Linked DNA regions of Homo sapiens. The protein of the gene in region 3 purifies or fractionates together with the protein of the main gene of each other region. This does not show direct contact. Each region holds a gene or a part of one and is shown on either strand. Other genes may lie near its edges.

Region 1 (7,000 bases), on a different chromosome or scaffold from region 3:
ACCTCGAAGGTAGTTACTTTTGGTGGCTGAGCAATTCTGGAACAACCAAACACATTATTTTCAGGAAAATAAACAAAACCAAAAACCTTTCTGACAACAAGAAGAAGAAATGTATAAACATGGAATCACCAAGAGAGAATAAGAAAGGCTGCAGCTCTCAGAACCTTCCCTCTCCTGTCTACTGGTCCCAAGTGCTAAATGACATGTCCCCTTGAGAGTCCAGAGCATTAGGATAGGGTAGACAGATGTAGCAAATAAAAATACAGCTCACCTAGTTAAATTTGAATTTCAGGTAAACAACAAATAACTTTGTAGTGTAAGTATATCCTGTGCAATATTTAGAATATACTTATGCTAAAGAATTACTTGTTGTGTATCTGAAATTCATTTTTAACTGAGTATCTATATTTTAATCTGGTAGCCCTAAGTTAAGGGTCCACAATGCTAAGGCCATGGGCCTGGACTGAGGAACTGCTGAGAGCTGACTCTTCTGGTTCCCCCAAAGAATCTGGGGATACCCTCAGCTGCATCTGGGGATGGGACTGAATCTGCCTAGAAGCAGAGCAGGCTCCAAATTTATTCCAAAGGTTTCAGTAAAAGGATTCAGATTTGGTTGCAATGAATTATACCTACCTGAGGCTCTGACCAGAGATACTTGTGTTTTATTTCAGCAAAGCTCATGTCTGAAAATTGGTTCAGTGCCACTACAAAAGAGAAGGAAAAAACCAAAACAGAAATGGTTAGTGAATCACTAATGAAGAAACAAGAAAAAGTGATGAAACCTCCTGTTTACCTGTGTCGTATTTAGAACCACTGCAACCCATCTCCTTTAAGTTTTTGTATTTAATATAATTCAGTAGATAATTCAATCAGCCCTTACAGTGCTGCCAAAATACCTGGGGAGCTTTTTCAATGGTATAGATGTCCGGGCCGTACTCCAGAGATGCTAATGCAGTTGGTCTGGGGTGGGGCCTGGGCACTTACTTTTTTAGATACTCCCCTCGTGAGTCTGATGGATAGCTAGGTAAAGAACCACTCCACTGGTGCCAGGGGCCTTCCCACCTGCTGCCTAATTTGGTCTCTACACAGCCCCAGCAGGGATGCGTGATCATTTCTGCTTTTTCTTTTCTTTTCTTTTTTTTTTTTTTTTTTTTGAGACAGAGTCTCGCTCTGTCACCCAGGCTGGAGGCAGGGACGCGATCTTGGCTCACTGCAACCTCTGCCTCCCGGATTCAAGCGATTCTCCTGCCTCAGCTTCCCTAGTAGCTGAGACTACAGGCACCTGCCACCATGCCCGGCTAAGTTTTGTATTTTTAGTAGAGATGGGGTTTTGCCATGTTGGCCAGGCTGGTCTCGAACTCCTGACCCTGTCTTTAGGGATTATAGGTGTGGGCCACCACACCTGGGCTCATTTCCTCTTTACTGCCCATGTTAGCATCCCTGGAGGTCACAGGCTAGGACTGGGCAGAAATGAGGTTCAAGCCCAAGTTTCTTTCCAGCTCATGCTTGATGCCTTTATTACCAATTTAGTCAACTACCAATATTTCTCAGAGTCCTCAGAAAATACGCTGGACGTGCGTGTGAGTTTCTTTTTTTTTTTGAGATGGAGTTTCACTCTTGTTGCCCAGGCTGGAGTGCAATGGCACTATCTCGGCTCACCGCAACCTCCACCTCCCGGGATCAAGTGATTCTCCTGCCTCAGCCTCCCAAATAGCTGGGATTACAGACATGCGCCACCAAGCCCGGCTAATTTTGTATTTTTAGTAGAGATGGGGTTTCTCCATGTTGGTTAGGCTGGTCTTGAACTCCCAACCTCAGGTGATCCACCCATCTCGGCCTCCCAAAGTGCTGGAATTACAGGCGTGAGCCACCGCGCCCGGCCTATGTGAGTTTCTAGTGAAATTAATCCGGAGTGAAGGCAGATGCTCCCAGGGGCTGCTCTGAGCCCATGAGCAACCCCTACCCCCCGCAACAATCCAAAGACAGACCTTGGCTTCCAGGCTGGACCCTCAGATGGCAGGAATGGGGCAGGGGCTTCTACAGAGTCTCTTGTAAACTTCACAACCACCCAGAGGGGTACCGGCTTTGTCCCAAATTTACGATCCCACATTACACAGAGAGTAACAGCGGAGCCACAATCTGAGGTCAGCCAAACACAGCTTCAGAGCCTGGGCTTCTGCTCCCTCCACCCACCAGCCCCCAGCGGGCCCTTTCATGGGCTGGGTCACTAACTGACATCCTTCCAGGAAGGAAGGAAGGCGTTCCACGTACTTTTAAATGTGTGGTTCCCATTGTTGTGGGCGTTTATCTTCCTCCAGTTGCTGGCAAACGTCTGCAGCCTGTGGTGGTACTCCTCCGTACTGTAGGTCTTACGGTGCTAAAACAAAACACGCCAGTAGCAAGTCATGGAAACAGGCTGCAGCTCCCTAGAGGGAGACCTTTTTGTTTTCCTAAGAGGAAAGATGAAGGTTTTCTTTCTGCTATGATTCTCAGGCCAAATCTGTGTTAATGGGCGGGGTACTGCTGAGAAATTTGGGAAGTTACAAAACAACCCCGTTTTCAGGGACCTGTGGCCAGAATGAAGACCATGCAGCTGCGTGAAAGTCAGAATGTGGTCCAAGAGGCACTGGTGAACAAACCTGCCACATGTGGGGCACTCCTGGACGCCACTGCTGGTGCTGGGTCAAGTTTACAGCAAAGATCACCATTTTTCAAAAGCACATGCACTGGTGTTCCCCAACTGATTCTGCAACCAGTACACAGTGTGCTTTGGTTTTCTAAAAACAAATGTGTATAATTTTTTATTGATATATAACTGATGTACTTTTTTTGGTAAATGTAATATTTCGATACATTCATATAATGTGTAATAATCAAATCAAGGTCATTGGGAGATCCATTACTTTAAAAATTTCTTTATGCTGGGAACATTCAAATTATTCTCTACTAGCTATTTGGAAATACAAAATAATGATTGCTTACTACAGTTGAATCTACTTGTTTTTTGAACACTTGGTCTCATTTCTTCTAATTATTTTTGGGCCAGGTGCAGTGGCTCACGCCTGTAATCCCAGCACTTTGGGAGGCTGAGGCGGGTGGATCACCTGAGGTCAGGAGTTCAAGACCCACCTGGCCAACATGGCGAACCCCCATCTCTACTAAAAATACAAAAATTAGCCGGGCATGGTGGCAGACACTTGTAATCCCAGCTACTCAGGAGGCTGAGGCATGAGAATCGCTTGAACCCAGAAGGTGGAGGTTGCAGTGAGCCGAGAGTGTGCCACTGCACTTCAGCCTGGGTGACAAAGTGAGACTCTGTCTCAAAAAAAAAAAAATATTTTGTACTCAGGAATCAGTTTATCTTCATCCCTGCTTCCCTGCCCTTCCTAGCTTCTGCTAGTCACCATTCTACTGTCTTTCTTCATCAGATCCACTTTTTTATCTCCCACATACGAGTGAGAACATGTAATATTTGCCTTTCTATGCTTGGCTTATTTCACTAAACATAATGACCTCCAGTTCCATCCATGTTGCTGCAAATGACAGAATTTCATTCTTTGTTATGGCTGAATAATATTCCATTGTGTACATACACCACATTTGCTTTACCCATTGATAGGCACTTAGGTTGATTCCATATCTTGGCTATTGTGACTAGTTCTGCAATAAACATGAGGGTGCAGATATCCCTCCAATATACTAATTTCCTTTCTTTTGGATATATACTCAGTAGTAGGCTTGCTGGGTCATATGGTAGTTTTGTTTTGAGTTTTTGATGGAACCTCCATACTGTTTTTTTTACAATGGTTGTACTAATTTACATTCTCCACAATGTGCTTTGAAAACAAAATACAGAAATGAATCCCAGGGCTTGGAAGGCTGTCAGCCAAGTTAATCACTTGGGACCACTATTTGGAAGGAATTTACTTAACTGCATCTTTCCCAGTGTTTGGCCAGTTCAACTTCTGGAAAGACCCCACTAGGCAAAGTTGGAAATTCCCTTTTTCATTGTCTCAAATCTGGGACAGTTTGGTTTGATAACAGGAAACTTTGTGAAATGAAAAACTTCAAAAAGAAGAAGTTGGGCACTGACCTTAGACATCCATGACTTGAAGTGAAACTTCTCTGTAAAAAGAAAAAAAAAATTAGGTCTGGGCGCATCACAGTAATGTTGAGTCTATAGCAAAGTAGGGCACTTTAGAACTGATTTGCATTTTCGAAAACTGGACTAAATTTAAAACACCAAAAATGGTGTTATATAATGCAGAATGCAAAAAGAAACTCCGACTCTTCCTGGTTTTGTACCCCAAATTAATGTGAAAAAGTATATACTATTAGTCAATGGTGTTGAAAGTCAGGATGGTGGTTATGCCTACTGGGTCGGGGTGCAGAAAGCACTTCCGGGATGCTGCTCATATCCTGTTTCTTCAACTGGGCGCTGGTTAACTGAGTGTGTTTAGATTGAGAAAATTCGTGGAAATGCATACTCAATGATTTGTGCCCCTTTCTGTATGAAGTTATATTTCGGTAAGAAGTTAATTTAAAAAGCTATCTACTCCAGCTGGGCGCGGTGGCTCATGCCTGTAATCCCAGCACTTTGGGAGGCCGAGGTGGGCCGATTGCCTGAGGTCAGGGGTTCAAGACCAGCTTGGCCAACATGGCGAAACCCTGTCTCCACAAAAATATAAAAATCAGCTGGGTATGGTGGTGTGTGCCTGTAATCCCAGCTACTCGGGAGGCTGAGGAGAATCGCTTGAACCCGGGAGGCGGAGGTTGCAGTGAGCCGAGATCGTGCCACTGCACTCCAGCCTGGGCGACAGAGAGAGACTCCGTCTCAAAAACAACAACAACAAAAAACAAACCTATCTATTCCAAGGGCAAGCACTGTTTTTCCTTATGGGGACAGGTAGTAAATATTTCAGGCTTTGCCATCTATATGGTTTCTGCCACAACTACTCAACTCTGCCCCTGCGGCTCAGAGACAGCCACAGAGACTGTGAACATTAATGGGTAGGACTGCGTTCCCGCAAGACTTCACAAAAACGAAACCTCACATGTACCCCCAAATATGTACAGATATTATCAAAAACATAATAAAACAAACAAGACAAAATATTTTACAAAAGCAGGCCAGCCATTTGTTTTTGGATTCCTGCCGTATTTCCCCATGTATGTTCTTATCTAAACATTTCATTTTAAATTTGAATACCTCCAAAGACATATTCCAACTTATAAATATTGAGATTTAAAAATAACACCTGGCAGTGTGGCCCAAGCCTATAATCTCAGTACTTTGGGAGGCTGACACAGGCGAATCCCTTGAGCCTAGGAGTTTGGGACCAGTCTGGGCAACAAAGTGAGACCTCGTCTCTACAAAAAAATAAAAAAAATTAGACGGGAGAATCACTTGAGCCTGGGAGGTTGAGGCTGCAATGAGCTATGATAGCGCCACTGCATTCCTGCCTGGGTGACAGGAGTGAGACCTTGTCTCAAAAAAAAAAAAAAAATCTCTAAAAATAAGATTGTTATATCATTCTTTTAAAGCTAGCCAGTGGAATCTAAATACCATGATGATTTGATATCCACCATCAGTAACATGAACAAACTTTTCTATAAGAGTCAGGTATTTAGGCGGGGTGTGGTGGCTCACGCCTGTAATCCCAGCACTTTGGGAGGCCAAGGTGGGCAGATCACCTGAGGTCAGGAGCTCATGACCAACTTGGCCAACATGGCAAAACCCCAGCTCCACTAAAAATACAAAAATTAGCTGGGCATGGTGGCAGGCGCCTGTAATCCCAGCTACTCAGGAGGCTGAGGCAGGAGGATCGCTTGAACCTGAGAGGCGGAGGCTGCTGTGAGCCGAGATTGTGCCACTGCACCCCAGCCTGGGTGACAAGAGCGAAACTCCATCTCAAATAAAGAAAACAAAACAAAAAAGAGTCAGATATTATACAGAGTTTCTTTTTCTTGTTGAACACCTATCTCCATCCCCACCTGGCAGAATTTTATCCTAAGGGAACATACATTTTTATGCTTGATCACCTTCACATTCTTTTCTGCAACAACAACAAAAAGTTTAAATTTAAATTATTTATTTTGGCTGGGCGCCGTGGCTCATGCCTGTAATCCCAGCACTTTGGGAGGCTGAGGCAGGTGGATCATGAGGTCAGGAGTTTGAGACCAGCCTGGCCAACATGGTGAAACCTCATCTCTACTAAAAATACAAAAATAAGCCAGACGTGGTGGCATGCACCTGTAGTCCCAGCTACTTGGGAGGCTGAGGCAGAAGAATTGCTTGAACCTGGGAGGCAGAGGTTGCAGTAGCCAAGATCGTGCCACTGCACTCCAGCCTGGGCGACAAAGCGAGACTCTGTCTAAAAAAAAAAAAAAAAAAAAAAAAAAAATTAAATGTTTTTACTACCTGTGACCCATACATCTGTGAATATTATAAAAATTTATTCTGGAGCTGGGCGCGGTGGCTCATGCCTGTAATCCCAGCACTTTGAGAGGCTGAGACGGGCGGATCACGAGTTCAGAAGATCGAGACCATCCTGGCTAACACGGTGAAACCCCAACTCTACTAAAAATACAAAAAACAAATTAGCCGGGCGTGGTGGCGGGCGCCTGCAGTCCCAGCTACTCAGGAGGCTGAGGCAGGAGAATGGCGTGAACCCGGGAGGCGGGGCTTGCAGTGAGCCGAGATCACGCCACTGCACTCCAGCCTGGGCGACAGAATGAGACTCCGTCTCAAAAAAAAAAAAAAAAATTTATTCTGGATTGAGTAATCATAATTATTATTAGTGTCCCAACTGATTAAAACATTTCAAATGTATTATACATTATGAAAAGTAATTGTTAAACATCAAAAGTAAAATTGTATCAGAAATGCATCTCTTAATGTGATAAACAGTACTCTACTGCCCATCCCCCGCAATGGATTTATATTTTCATGAGTGAATATTGTTTGGTTGAGAAAAGGTTCAGCATTAATTCTGGTCTT
Region 2 (7,000 bases), on a different chromosome or scaffold from region 3:
AAATCAATAAGCTTTTTAGGCCAACATGCTTTTAGCATCTCTCTGCAGAATTAGGGCTGGAGATTAAGGGAAAACGTAGCTAAAAGTCTTGTCTCCCAGAAGCTCACAGTGGCCGTTGGAAGATGTCAAAGCTGAGAGGTGGATGAAAGGAGCAGCAGTCCAGAGCCAGGCAGACCTGGCTGTTCCTCTCCCATGGTGCCATCCTCTTCCCTCCCTGGGAAGGGTGTAGGGAAGAAGGTTTCCTGGAGATCTAAGTCCTCCTGGAATGAGTATCCACCACCTAGAGAACATATGAGCTTAAACAAAGAGCTTGATCTCTGTAAATTAGTCATAATTCTTTTGGCTGAAGGGGAAAAATTTACCTCAAACCAGCCAACTCTAAAAGGGAAATTTATTGGCTTTCATAACTTGGAAACATGGAAGTGGGTAGCAAACTGAGTTAAAGGTTAGTCCAGGGTCTCCAAAGATGTCATCAGATGTGTCAGTCCATTTCTGTCTTTCCACCTCCCTCTATCACTCTCCTCTCCTTCTACATGTGGAAACCATGGCCACATTCAGCTCCAGGGCTACTTCACAAAGCTAGCTGCCCCAAAGCTTAGGGGGTTTTGCATTCCCTTAGAAAGACACTGAGAGGTCTGATTTTGGTCCACACTCTCATCTTTAACCAGCCAGTGTGGCAAAGGAATGAAGTATTATGATGGTAGGTCTGGGCCATATGCCTACACTACGGGGTATCCTCACTGTGGTCCAATGGAGGGAAGGAGAGCTGTTCCTCAAAGGAATTGAGACACTGTTTCCATAAAGAGGGTACAAAAACAAGAGTTGTCTTCTACATTCAGTCCTCCTATTTACAAAGTGTAGAAGTCATTTCTAGTCCCCAGGGTGATTATAAAGTTTAAATGCTATAAAGGGGTCAAAGCACTCATAAACTGCTATGTACAACACATAATAGTCACTGTATTTCTTCTTTCATCTGGTCTTCCTCTGGGTAACATGTAGGCAATGGGGTTATCATGTTCTTTTTTTCTGCTGACCTCAGGTCTACTACTCAACAGGATATTCTTCAAGGAAAATGAACCCCACACTAGGCCTGGCCATTTTTCTGGCTGTTCTCCTCACGGTGAAAGGTCTTCTAAAGCCGAGCTTCTCACCAAGGAATTATAAAGCTTTGAGCGAGGTCCAAGGATGGAAGCAAAGGATGGCAGCCAAGGAGCTTGCAAGGCAGAACATGGACTTAGGCTTTAAGCTGCTCAAGAAGCTGGCCTTTTACAACCCTGGCAGGAACATCTTCCTATCCCCCTTGAGCATCTCTACAGCTTTCTCCATGCTGTGCCTGGGTGCCCAGGACAGCACCCTGGACGAGATCAAGCAGGGGTTCAACTTCAGAAAGATGCCAGAAAAAGATCTTCATGAGGGCTTCCATTACATCATCCACGAGCTGACCCAGAAGACCCAGGACCTCAAACTGAGCATTGGGAACACGCTGTTCATTGACCAGAGGCTGCAGCCACAGCGTAAGTTTTTGGAAGATGCCAAGAACTTTTACAGTGCCGAAACCATCCTTACCAACTTTCAGAATTTGGAAATGGCTCAGAAGCAGATCAATGACTTTATCAGTCAAAAAACCCATGGGAAAATTAACAACCTGATCGAGAATATAGACCCCGGCACTGTGATGCTTCTTGCAAATTATATTTTCTTTCGAGGTAAGGCTTTTGGCATGTTGGTGTGGAAAGAATAGGATGACCACTAGACTTGGGTTAAAAACCTGGGTTGGCCACTTGTTTACTCTGTGACCTTGAATTCATATGTGATTTATCTCTCAAAACCTCACTTTTCCTATCTGTAAAATGGTTACCATGATACATAACTCATACAGTTATTGAGATTTAAAGTGAAAATGTATGTGAAATGAGCTTTATGAAGTCTATCATTTTCATTATTGGTGATTATCCTAACACAACATTGGTTATAGAGGTTGGAATGACATTTTGTTCCCATCACTTAGATGAGAAAAAAAAATCAGAGTGAGATTAACTGACTTACTCCAAGTTACAAAGCCCATCATTGACAGTCAGGACTGGAACACATTTCTCCTGGCCCTAGCACTGTGTGCTTTCCAGCACTTTAAGCAGACACCTGAGATGGTGATTGTGTTGATTATGGTGATGGTGATCACTTGGTGGGTCTCCTTATGTATGTATTATATAAATTCTCCTTATCAGACTTTATATATTTCCCAGATCTGATGGAGAGAGACAGAAAAAAAAGATGGAAGAATGTTTCCAATTTCAACTTTATCCCCCAACACCACACAGAACACATGTACACAAACAGGTTGGCCAAAATAGGTGAGAATCAGAGGCCAACACCCATCAGTCCAGACAAAATCACTGCTGGAGTGTCAGGAACATGGTACTAAATATAAAAAATTGAGGGTTCTCAAAATCCACAGGCAGATTGATGGCTAAAGAAGAGTCTACTCACATCAGACTCAATTAGCCCTCATTAATTGTAATGCAGTCCCCTCTGTTAGGACATAATCAGTGGGCTTTCTCAGGCTTAGGGGAACCTGAGCTTATGGTAGTCTTCTTTTCCCCTCTTAATTTGGCAGTCTAGTCCTGGCTTCTTTGGGAACTAATAATTGCACCTGAGCCCATATCATCAGAAATCTCCAGGACATGGCATGAGGGCAAGGACTTCCCTGATATCCCGGAATATCCCCTTTCACCCTGAATCTGTGTGGAGAGAGACTACTGGTTAGTTGGATTTAGTCACCTTTTTTCCCTTGGGATAACATGTCTGTTTGTCTTTCTTCAATCTAAGCCAGGTGGAAACATGAGTTTGATCCAAATGTAACTAAAGAGGAAGATTTCTTTCTGGAGAAAAACAGTTCAGTCAAGGTGCCCATGATGTTCCGTAGTGGCATATACCAAGTTGGCTATGACGATAAGCTCTCTTGCACCATCCTGGAAATACCCTACCAGAAAAATATCACAGCCATCTTCATCCTTCCTGATGAGGGCAAGCTGAAGCACTTGGAGAAGGGATTGCAGGTGGACACTTTCTCCAGATGGAAAACATTACTGTCACGCAGGTAAAGTGGGTGCCTAGCCCTCGCAGCTTTTTCCTTCTCTTGTCTTCCCTCTTATTTCTGCTGTCTGAGCTCTTACCTCATGGCCAAGTCCTCTTCTGGGCTCTATAATAAACTTATATCATGGTGAGAATTAGACTGGGGAACAAATCATAGGAATAGAGTGAAGTGCCTGGCTCTTTGAGGGAGATTCATCAAGACTGTGAGGGCGCAGTAGATGGAGTCTTACTGGAGGGCGGTGGTCAGGGAGGACTTCATAGAGGAGATAGCATTTGAGCCAAGTCTTCAAGGGTGAGTGGCAGTCTGTATGAAAGGGTGAGGAGCAAAGGAAACTGCAAGGACAAACACGGGCTGTAAAAGAGAGCTGTGAGTTGTGAGTAGAATGATGTTGTCAACTGTGGTGTCACAACAAAACCCATGAAGTATCCAAAGTAAGTTATACAAATAATAGTTGAAGAATAAAAGAGAGTAAATATTTTTCTTTTTAAAACATAAACTGATATTAGATTAATGCTAAGCCTACAGAATTCCTCCCAGGCACTTGCTTACTGATAGATTTTGGGGGAAAAGGTAAGAGTTGGTGTTGGGTTTAAGTCTTGGGGACTTAGTGTCAGCGTGGACATACATAGTGCCTTGAAAGTGGCTGGGCTAGTGGCCTCTAGTAGCCAGAGCAGTGAAGGGGATGTAGCAGAGTGGGCAGTTTCCACTTGGACAGGTGTCAGATGTCCTCTTCTCTGTTCTCTTTCCCTCTTCCACCTTGTCCCTGTCATCATTCCCCATGCATCTCCATAAAGGTATTTACTAAGAACCTCTGCCACACCTAACGTCCTGTCAGGCACCAAGGACGGTACCAAGAGAGGTACAGATGATGCTAGGACTGAGCTTAGTAACCCATGGGTGGTAACTGAACTGATGCAACTCTTTTCATGCAGAACACTGTCTTGGAGGCATTCCAGAATGCATCTCTTATATCTAGAGTGAGCTGCAGACTTAAGAAAGGGAAATTCTGGCCGGGCGCGGTGGCTCACGCCTGTAATCCCAGCACTTTGGGAGGCCGAGGCGGGCGGATCACGAGGTCAGGAGATCGAGACCATCCCGGCTAAAACGGTGAAACCCTGTCTCTACTAAAAATACAAAAAATTAGCCGGGCGTAGTGGCGGGCGCCTGTAGTCCCAGCTACTTGGGAGGCTGAGGCAGGAGAATGGCATGAACCCGGGAGGCGGAGCTTGCAGTGAGCCGAGATCCCGCCACTGCACTCCAGCCTGGGCGACAGAGCGAGACTCCATCTCAAAAAAAAAAAAAAAAAAAAAAGAAAGGGAAATTCTGATTCCGAATGCTTCCAATTAAGTCATGGTACTGGGATGGAGGAGCCAAGTAGCAGAGCATCCCAAGAGCGTTGCCATCCCTTGAGATCTGCATAGTCTCACCTGCCCTTCCCACTGGGAACCAGGGAGGTGGAAGGGTTGGCAGAGTCTGGCCACTGAAACAAAAGGAGGGGTCCAGGTTACAACCTTTAGCTGAGACCTGGTCTTCTCATCTATGGTGTGTGGCCATAATATCGCCAACACCACAGTACTCTTGAGAGAATTAAATGTGCCTTAGCACAGCATTGCCCCACAGAAAACATATCCAAATGCAAATTCCTCTTTCCTTCCCATTGTCTAAAGAGGCAGAGCTCCAAGGTTCTCAGCAGAACTTTTGAACTTCTGGTTTATTGAATGACAGGTGTCCTGCAAATCTGACCCTCTTACCCTCAGGTTGAAGCCCTAGGGTGGCTGCTCTTCCACTGCAGAAGATGTTCCCAGTGGGAGGGGCGGGTGAGGCTGTGCAGATCTCGAGGGATGGCAGCGCTCTTGGAATGCCCTGTCACTTAGCTCCCCCCTTCCATAAATGTGACTTTATTGAAAGCATTCAGAACCAGAATTTTCCTTTCTCAAGCCTGCAGCTCACTCTAGATATCAGAGATGCATTCTGCAATGCCTCCAAGCCATGTTCCGTGTGAAAGGAGTCACATCAGTTCAGTTCAGTTACCACCCACGGGTTCCCCCATGTTGTCTCAACATGGGGACATCCCCAAAGGGACTGACGTGTTTCAGCCTGCACTCTACAGATTTTTAGAGTTCACAGAGATGTCTTGAGAGATCTCCCTAGGGAACTGGGGGGTGTAGAACATGAAGAGAAGGTAAGAAATGGGAGGGATGCCAGGTCTTCCACCCCACTTCATCCAGAAGTCTGGCTTTGTGAGACATGGACTCCAGAATATGACATTTCCCGTAGGACTCAAATTACAGTGGCTTGAGACTCTGCAGTTGATTTGCTGGAACTCACTGTCCTGAGTGCACTCCACCCCTATCTCCAAGCCATGTCTGACAATTTCTCCATGGGGCTACAGCTCAGGTGCTACACTGGGGGCTTCACATTCCCCTCACTGAGGCCCTCTGCAGCCCCTGGTGCTGTGACCACCATCAGGCCACCACCAACCACACAGATGTTCCCTGGGCACTGCCACCATCTCTCTGGCTTCAGGCTTCATCTCCTTTTGCACCTTTACACAAGAGTGAAATAGAACCTTTGAGATTTTCTGTAGGCTAGTGCCAGACTTCCTGGAGGTTTGGGAATAACAGAACCAAAGCTCCTCACAGGGACCCAGGATAACTTACAGCGCACAGAAGCGGCGTCTTGTGAAGTCCAAGTGTAAGCTGCTCTCAGTGGCGTCTCGTGAAGTCCAAGTGTAGAGTGTAGGCTGCTCTCAGTGGTGTCTTGTGGAGTCCAGGTGTAAAGTGCAGGCTGCTCTCAGTGGCGTCTTGTGAAGTCCAAGTGTAGGCTGCTCTCAGCATCTCTTCCAGGGCACCTCCTTCCATTTTTCTAGTGCCTGGTCTGCCTCCCCCATCCCTCTGGGACTGCTTTCCGCATCTCCTTGACTTGAGGCCAGGCCTCCCCACCAGGAGGGCCATAGAAAGGAAGGTTCCTCTCACCCCAGGGATGTCTTGCCTACCCAGTCACTTCTGGCCTTGGAATGACAGACAGGGTATTGTCCACCTTCCCGAGAAGAAACTCCAAATCCTCTTGCAGGACAGGGGGCTTGCTCACCGTCCCCAGGGAATTACATTTCATTAGAACATGATAGGAACAAACATTCCTACCTTCTGAGCTCATTATTTCTGGGAGATAAGTGGTCAAGTTGCTTTGATCTACAGGTGGGAAGCCTAGTCCAGAGAGCTCAGTGGCCCGCTATGGGAGAGCAGAGGTGGACGGGCTATCCCTATGCATTCTTTCTGCAGTCCTCTCCAGACTGGAGGGCCTAGAAGACACTGAGCAGAAAAATCACCTTTTCCCTAAAAGAAGTAACCAAGTCAACAGACACACACCAACTTACATGTGTGTAGAACATGTCAGAATTTAGGCTTCGGATGACTTCCACCTGGCCTCTGTGCAGGAGGCAGACACCTGCTTTGGATTTGCATAATTTGAGGCCAGGTGCTGCTCTGATTTCCCCAGAGGAAAAGCTCTGTTTCCCAGGGTCCACCTTTAGGAGCAGAAAACTGCTGGTGGCTTTGAAATAGCCATTGTCCTGTTCAGAAGTGTCGAGGGTCCACTCCCAGCCTGGGTGCCCCCCACACATTTCCGTACATATTGGTATATGCACTCACCTGTCAGCACAGCTGCACTTAGTGCCTTCCCACGTTGGCACAAACTAAAGCCGATCTCCTCATTTACGCACTGGACCTACGGCCCCCTGCTACTCAGGAACATCACCCTAGAAATCCTCTCCTCACTTTCCTACATCAGCATATGTTTTTCTCTCTTCTGAATCATTTCCATCAGATACAAAGATGCCCTTATCTTTCCTATCATGAAACCTCGCAGGGGGCCAGGGAAAACTTACAGCTCATAGAAGTGGCTTCT
Region 3 (7,904 bases):
CCTTTTTCATACTAAACATGAATGTACACCCCACCCTCGTTCAGGAAAAAGTTCATTGATGTAATGAACCATAACTACTATTGGAAGTGGCCATATTCCTCCCTCAGGTGTTTAAAGAAAGTTCAGATCCACTGATCCCGAAGGAGTGTGCAGGATGGTGTCGGGGGCAGGAGTGGGGATCAAAAGCAGGGAGCACCAGGTAGGTGCCATTGCAATAACCCTGGAGCATGATCATAAGGCTGGATTTAAAAGGCAGTAAAATGTTTGGAAAAGAAGAGACAACTTTCTTTTTTTGAGACAGACTCTCGTTCTGTTACCCAGGTTGGAGTGCAGTGGTGCAATCTCAGCCTCCCAGGCTCACATGATTCTCCTGCCTCAGCCTCCCAACTAGCTGAGATTACAGGTGCCCACTACCATGCCTGGATAATTTTTTGTTTTTTTAGTAGAGACAGGGTTTCACCATGTTGGTTAGGCTGGTCTCAAACTCCTGACCTCAAGTGATCTGCCCACCTCAGCCTCCCAAGTGCTAAGATTACAGGAGTGAGCCACCGCGTCAGGCCACAACCTTATCTGAAAATGAAGTATTCATCTTGTTCCCTTTACCCTATTACCATCTAAATAACCACAAGGCTTCTGATAACTGCTTTGAAATTCAAGTCCCCCAAAACCAAAAACTGGTTGTTTTCTGAGACAAATATAGTTTTGCAATTCTTATTAACAGTCAGATGAAATCAGGATGAGGTGACTTCCAGGATGCAAGAGACATTTAAATCCATTTTGTGCAGGAACATTATTTTGCTTCATAGACATTTTAAAAAGATAGATTAGCTTCATATCTTTAGAAATGTTATAGCCATCACCAGCAAATTTCTAAGTCCACTAACCATCCCCAATAATAATAACCTCTAATCTTTATTGTACTCTACAGTTGTAGAGCGCTTTCATATACAAAGCCAATGATATTATTTCTCACTTTACAGTTGAAGAAACGAGCCTGGAAATGCTAAGGGATTTGCCCAAGTCTGTATAGCTGGTAAGGAAATGGCAGGACTGAGATCCTAATCTAATGCTCCTCCTACACTGTTGCCTCATGAAATGAAAATAAGGTTGGCATAGACTCATTTGTCAAAGATGTTCATTCAAACATTATTTGGTGCTTACTATGTGTTAGGCACTGGGGATTCAGTTAGTACCCTCATGGAGATTGTAGTAAGTGGGGAATATAGTCTATCTGTGATTATCTGAGTTAAGAGGAATGATTAAAATGATTGAAATTAAAGTTCTTTATGAGTTTTCTGATCCATAGCCAACAGAACATAAAAAGTTGCAAATGTGGCCAGGCGCGGTGGCTCACACCTGTAATCCCAGCACTTTGGGGGTCGAGGTGGGTGGCCCATGAGGTCAAGAGATCAAGACCATCCTGGCCAACATTGCAAAACCCCGTCTCTACTAAAAATACAAAAATTAGCTGGTCATGGTGGCACACACCCATAGTCCCAGCTACTCGGGAAGCTAAGGCAGGAGAATCACTTTAATCCGGGAGGTGGAGGTTGCAGTGAGCTGAGATCGTGCCACTGCACTGCACTCCTGGCGATAGGTGGAGGCTCCGTCTCAAAAAAAAACAAAAATGCAAATGTATTCCGTAATAAGAGAGAAGAGGCAGAAAGAGGCGTAGAGATTCAAAGGACAAAAAAAAAAAAAGTTTAAAAAAAAGAAATGGAAAAAAGGCCAGAATAAAAGCCAATTCTCAATAAATGTTAGACCAAGCTTGTCCAACCTGCAACCCACCGGCCGCATGCAGCCCAGGACGGCTTATGAATGCAGCCCAACAACACAAATTTGTAAACTTTCTTAAAACATTTGACATTTTTTTTGCTTTTTTTTTGTTGTTGTTTTTAACTCATCAGCTATCGTTAGTGTATTTTACGTGTGGCCCAAGACAATTCTTCTTCCAATGTGGGCCAGGGAAGACAAAATATAACACTCCTGTGTTAGAAAATGAGAACAACCAACATGTTTCTACTCACAGTTGTTCACATGGACACAAAACTGCCTGATTCCATTAGAATCCATGAAAACTCTTGAAGGAAACGGGGAATTACTCCTGAAGATAACAGAGTTGTCTACACAAACCCAGCTTGAAGACCTGTGAGGAAAGAGGAGGGAGAAGATATATTTAGAAGGGGCGGGGCAGGTCCAAAAAAGAGTGTCCCAGCAATATCGGCCAGATGATGCCAAAGAGGACTCCTTGGGCACCTATAGGACGACACGAAGGTCTTATTCTACTGGCCAGCCCTGCTCTAGAGAATCAGAAAAGGCAATTCCTAGGAAAAACCAAGGGAATGTCCTAGGAGTGGAAGTACGGGTGGGAGGCACAAAGACTAACTCTTCTTACATCCAAATGTTACCCGTTGTAGGCCCCAAACCCCTTTAGGATTCAGTCTGAGCAACGAAGCTCACCTTACGCTGCCTGGAAGGCAGAAGGAGAAAACTGTCCTCGGATGGAGAAGATAGCAGTCCCTGTCGCAGCAGCAATTTATATCGCAGGCTCCAGGAGTCAAGTCACAGACACAGATCGGTAAGACTATGAAAGTACGACACAGAGTGAGTGGGATGAAGATCCCCAAACTCTCCCAGGTGCTCACCCTCCTTCTTCCGACAGCCCCACTCCTGCTTTGTGGCAGCTCAACTTTGCTCACAGAATTTTAGATCTCAGAAGTAAGTTTCCACCCCCACAACGTTTTCCCTCACCTGGGAAGAGGTCCACAGTCCTATTCCCAGGGGCCGAGGGAGTCACGAGAGTAGGGACCACTGTAGGGAGTCCAGGCACGGCCGGGCGAGTTGCAGTCGCCTCTGAAGGGGACTGGAGGGTTCCGCCATCCGTCCCTCGCTGCAGCTCCAAAGACGTGGGCACTGCCCCTGATGGGGAGGAAGAGGGCTGAGGCCGGACGCCATCGGGGAACACCAGAAAGAACACTTGCAGGAGCGCGAGCTGTGGGGTGCGCATGGGGCATTCAGGGCCTCCGGGTCCGACGTAGGCCTCCGCGGTCTCCAATCGCATTGCCAGAGCGTGGGTGGGAGGAGTCGCATAGCGTCTGACGCCATCCGCGTGCCTCTTCTCATTGGCTCATGAGAAGGCTGAGAGCTCTTCAACCAATCGAAAGTGGGGTTGTTACAGCTCTTTCAGTGTCCTTCGGTCTGCGCCCTCCTCCTTAACGCGGGCCGGGCCGTGCCTCCGTTGCCTGGCAACCGTCAGTGACGAAGAAGCCCTTGCGCCTTCCTTCCGCTAGGTGGCGGTAGGAGTTCGGCGGACCGAGAGGTTCCGCGCCCACTTCGCGGCCCAGAGGACTGAGCCCGGCCTCCGGTGCAAGGAAACCCCAGAGGCCGGAACTAGAATTGCAAATTTTTTTTCACCCCGGATTCCAACGGTGAGAAACCCTTTCTATGGAAGAATAATGTTCTCAGGTGGGGGAAACACACCTAAGGTCACATACCTTAAAAAACAGTCTCCTCTAAATATGGCTTTTTTAAAAAAAAAAAAAACACATTAGAAATAATGTTCATTCAGCTCCTTACATTTTAACATTGAGAAATTTTGAAAACCCTAAAGAAATGCATCAAATCATTAAAGATGGACTGCATGTTTGTTGTTAGAAAAAGCAGTGAGAGAAAAATAAGAAAAAAGGGCAGGAAAAATGTGAGAAAATAGGGAGAGAAAGAATAAAAAAAAGAAACATTGTCTAGGAGGTGAGAAAATAAGATGGAGGAATGGAAATAGAAGATTTTTTTCCCCGTGTTAATGGCAAATTTTTTAAGCCTCTCTAGGAGGTTTTTGTTCTTCCCGGGAATGGCGTGCCTCTTCCGATTCCCCACAGCAGCGCGGGCCATGGGACTTTCCTTCGGTATTGGAAATGTACCGTAGCTGCACTGTCCAGCATGGTAGTCACCGGCCTTATGTGGCAATTGTGCGCTTGAAATGTGGCTAGCGTGACTGAGGAGCTGATTTTTTTTTTTTTTTTTTTTTTTGAGACGGTGTTTCGCTCTGTCGCTCAGGCTGGAGTGCAGTGGTGTGATCTCAGCTCACTGCAACCTCTGCCTCTAGGATTCAGGTGATTCTTCTGTTTCAGCCTCCTGAGTAGCTGGGATGACAGGCACGCGCCACCACGCCCGGCTAATTTTATTTTTATTTTTAGTAGAGATGGGGTTTCACCATGTTGTCCAGGCTGGTCTCGAATTCCTGACCTCAAGTGACCCTCCCGCCTTGGCCTCCTAAAGTGCTGGGATTACAGCTGTGAGTCGCTGTGCCTGGCCTGAATTTTTAATTTTTAAATTGTAATTAATTCAAAGTTAACCACAGACGTGAGTAGCTACCATATTGTACAGTGGGACTGTAGATGATCAAAATATTGCTCCTCCTAGACCCAGTATTTTCCTATGTCCACGGTTCTGACATCTGGATTATTTTGGATATTTAGTTTTAGTATATAAATTAACATCTGTTAAGAGTTATCTAAAATCTAGTACACTTACCTAAAATCTGGTCAACACCTCCCTTTACAAGTGAATCATTTAACTCAGGTAAGTTTTAGGACATTTGACTTTACTTGAATTCTCTTACAAGATCTTTATTTTCTAATGTTTTGAAGTCAGTAGCTAAAAGTCTCTCTGTGTTATAAATATTTTCAAATATGTTTTTATGTTGTTGTGTGATAGACAGCTATGGGAGATATGTGTTTGGTCTTAAAACATTTATTTACCTTATTAGTAATTTCTATAGGAAAAGGCCAAGTTCATATTATTCAGATTATATGATCATATGTATATACTAGAATGTAAATTCCAAAAATAGTGAGTTTTGTCTGTTTTGTTCATTGAAATATCCCCATGCCTAGAACAGTGTCTGGGACATGTTAGATGTGCATTAAATATTTTAAAAATATATTAAAAATTGTTTTGTTGAACTCTTTAGAATTAATCCTTAGGAATATTTTTAGTTTATTTTATTTCAGGATTGTATTTCTTTCTATAAAATTTCTTCTTTTTGCAACCAATTTACCATGTAATGATCTTTCTATAAAATTTCCATTGTACATCTGATCAGAGACTATTTTAGATTTCAAAGTTTGGAATTTAAATGGCAACTCTCAAATAGTGTTAAATTATTTCTGAATTTATTAGCGTTGGCAAAAGACTGTTGGTTGAAGTAATTTTAGAGATGAGTGATAAGGAAGTAATGTTTCCGGATCTTTTTGAGTTGCTTTTTCTTATTTTTGAATTTTAACACAACTTTTTTTTAGAAAAGTTATTTTTTTCTCTTTTGTTATAGTTAAGCAAAAAGATTATTTGTATTGCTGTTTTTTAAACTTGTTTTATTTATTGATTTAATTAATTAATTAATTAACTTATTTGAGAGAGTCTTGCCCTGTCACCCAGGCTGGAGTGCAGTGGCGCCATCTTGGCTCACTGCAACCTCCACCTCCCAGGTTCAAGCAACTTTCCTGCCTCAGCCTCCCTAGTAGCTGGGACTACAGGTGTACCCACCACACCCAGCTAATTTTTGCATTTGTAGTAGAGACGGAGTTTCACCATGTTGGCTAAGCTGGTCTCAAACTCCTGACCTCAAGTGATCTGCCTGCCTCAGCCTCCCGAAGTGTTGGGATTACAGGCATGAGCCACCGTGCCTGGCATGTATTGCTGTTTTGTATTTGTAAGAATCTCTGTAATATAGAACTCTCAATACTTTTGAGATCCAGTATTAAAATCTGAAAGATAATTTTGTGGATGAAGAATGAAATTTATTCACATGTGTCATGCAGATGTCAGGTTTAGTATGGGGACCAAGTCTTAAATTGAGATCATATAATATCATCTCAGAAGCAGAGATTTCCAAATTAGATCATATGATACTAGCAGTTGTCTGTGTTTGGGATTAAAAGAGTTTAATATGTAATTGGAAATTTAGCAAGGAGATTGTACTGAGATGGCAGACAACAAGTTCTGTCCTTTTCCCACTTCTCCCCCCTTTTCCAAAAATCTCTGAAAATTACAGAAAACTTAGATACACACACACTTGTGCATACATGAACATGCCCAGAATTGAAATACATGAAGGTGTGCTCTCATGGGCCAGACATTATAAGAATACTTGAAAAATAGAAGGCACATGGGATGGAATTGAAGGTGGACAAACAACAGTTGCATAATAAAGGCCTTATACAGAAATGGAAGTGACTCTTGGAGTGCTCTAAGCACACAGAAAGAAGGTATTTGTTATCAATAGTGGCCCTTAGACAATTCTATGAGTTATTGATTGAAGTACCACTGTAGGAAGAGCCAGGTCAGCCTCTCAAGCTTATCCCTACTTGTGCTTGCGGTGGATAGCAGAAGAATTTTCCCCTAAAGGTGGTGGTGGGGGTGGCGGGAGGCAGTCCATGTATACTTTTACTGAAAAGGCAGGACAGTGCCCTGGATGGCTTCTGACATTTAGGAGGAAGAGAGAGGCCCCACACGTTGAGACTGGTCCTAGCCCACTACTAGGTTTGCGTGTCTCCTCCAAAATTCATTTCAAAACTTAATCCCCAATGTGCAGTATTGAGAGGTGGGACCTTTAAGAGGTGATTTGATCATGAGGTCTCTGCCTTCATGAATGGACTAATCCATTCACGGGTTAATGGATTAATGTGTTGTCATGAGAGAGGAACTGGTGGCTTTACAAGAAGAGGAACAGAGACCTGAGTTAGCAAGTTAACACGCTCAGCTTCCTCACCATGTGATGCCCTGTGCTGCCTTGGGATGCTGCAGAGAGTTGCCAGCAGCAAGAAGGTTCTTAAGAGATGCCCCCTTGACCTTGGGCTTCCCAGCCTCCACAACTGTAAGAAATGAATTCCTTTTCTTTATAACTTATCCTGTTTCAGGCATTCTGTTATAAGCAACAGAGAATGAACGAAGACAGAAAATTGGAACCAAGAAGTGGGATTTTGCTGATGACAAATACCTGAAAATGGGGAAGCAGCTTTGGAACTAGGTAATGAGCAGGGGCTGGAAGAGTTTGAAGGAGCAGGCTATAAAGTGACTGTATTTCAGTGAATGGAGTATTAAGGGTGATTCTGGCGAGACTCAGAAAACAAAAAGACAAGGGAACATTTGGAACTTCTTAGAGATTTGTTAAATGATTGTAACCAGAATACGGATAGAAATATGGACAGTAAAGGCCATTCTGCTGAGATTTGAGATGGAACTGAGGAAGGTGGTATTGGAAAATGGAGTAAAGGCCATCCTTGTTATAAATTGGCAAAGAACTTGGCTGAACTGTGTCCATGCCTGAGGGAATTGTGGAGGGCCAAACTTGAGATTAATGAACTAGGGTATCTAGCAAAAGAAATTCCTAAGCCAAATATAGAAGGAGCTACATGATTACATTTGACAACTTATGCTGATATTCAGGAGCAAAGGAATAATTTAAAGGTAGAATTTATCATGAAAAGGGAAGCAGAGTGGAAGGATTTGGATAACTCTCAGCCTGACCACATGAAGAGTAAAAAAGCACGTTCAGCAGAGGAAACCAAGGGTGCAGCCCAGTGACTGTTTGCTAAAGAGATTAGTTTGGATAAAAGGGAGACAGATACCATTCCTTTAGACAAGGGAAGAAAGATCCCAAAGGCATTTCAAAGATCTTAGAGGGTGCCCCTCCCATCACAGGCCCAGAGGCATAGGAGGACAGAATAGTTTCAGAGGACAGGTCAGGGTACTCTCCACAGGCTCACTGCCCAGGGCCACCTCAAGGGAGTCCCACCGGCAAGATGGCTCTCACCAGGTATGCCTCTTTGACTTTGGACTTCCCAGGCTTCATAACTGTAAGAAATCAATTTTTTTCTTTATAAATTACCCATTTTTAGGTATTCTGT

What was found. Proteins that work in one complex are often made in the same cells at the same time.
Region 1: the proteins of TCTN3 (region 3) and CTSH purify together in Homo sapiens (affinity purification with mass spectrometry; 2 studies listed by BioGRID and IntAct, with this or other methods). This does not show direct contact.
Region 2: the proteins of TCTN3 (region 3) and SERPINA12 purify together in Homo sapiens (affinity purification with mass spectrometry; 2 studies listed by BioGRID and IntAct, with this or other methods). This does not show direct contact.

The regions. Positions count from the first base shown.
Region 1 is NC_000015.10:78,935,047-78,942,046, forward strand, and holds part of CTSH (pro-cathepsin H isoform a preproprotein), read right to left. Parts: intron 4,126-7,000; coding exon 4,094-4,125; intron 2,778-4,093; exon of another isoform or gene 2,709-2,777; coding exon of another isoform or gene 2,640-2,708; intron 2,378-2,639; coding exon 2,272-2,377; intron 705-2,271; coding exon 634-704; intron 37-633; coding exon 1-36. UniProt on the Homo sapiens protein: Important for the overall degradation of proteins in lysosomes.
Region 2 is NC_000014.9:94,492,470-94,499,469, reverse strand, and holds part of SERPINA12 (serpin A12 precursor), read left to right. Parts: intron 1-1,039; 5' UTR 1,040-1,072; coding exon 1,073-1,706; intron 1,707-2,826; coding exon 2,827-3,097; intron 3,098-7,000. UniProt on the Homo sapiens protein: Adipokine that modulates insulin action by specifically inhibiting its target protease KLK7 in white adipose tissues.
Region 3 is NC_000010.11:95,690,893-95,698,796, forward strand, and holds the start of TCTN3 (tectonic-3 isoform a precursor), read right to left. Parts: upstream 3,036-7,904; 5' UTR 3,008-3,035; coding exon 2,752-3,007; intron 2,585-2,751; coding exon 2,461-2,584; intron 2,147-2,460; coding exon 2,028-2,146; intron 1-2,027.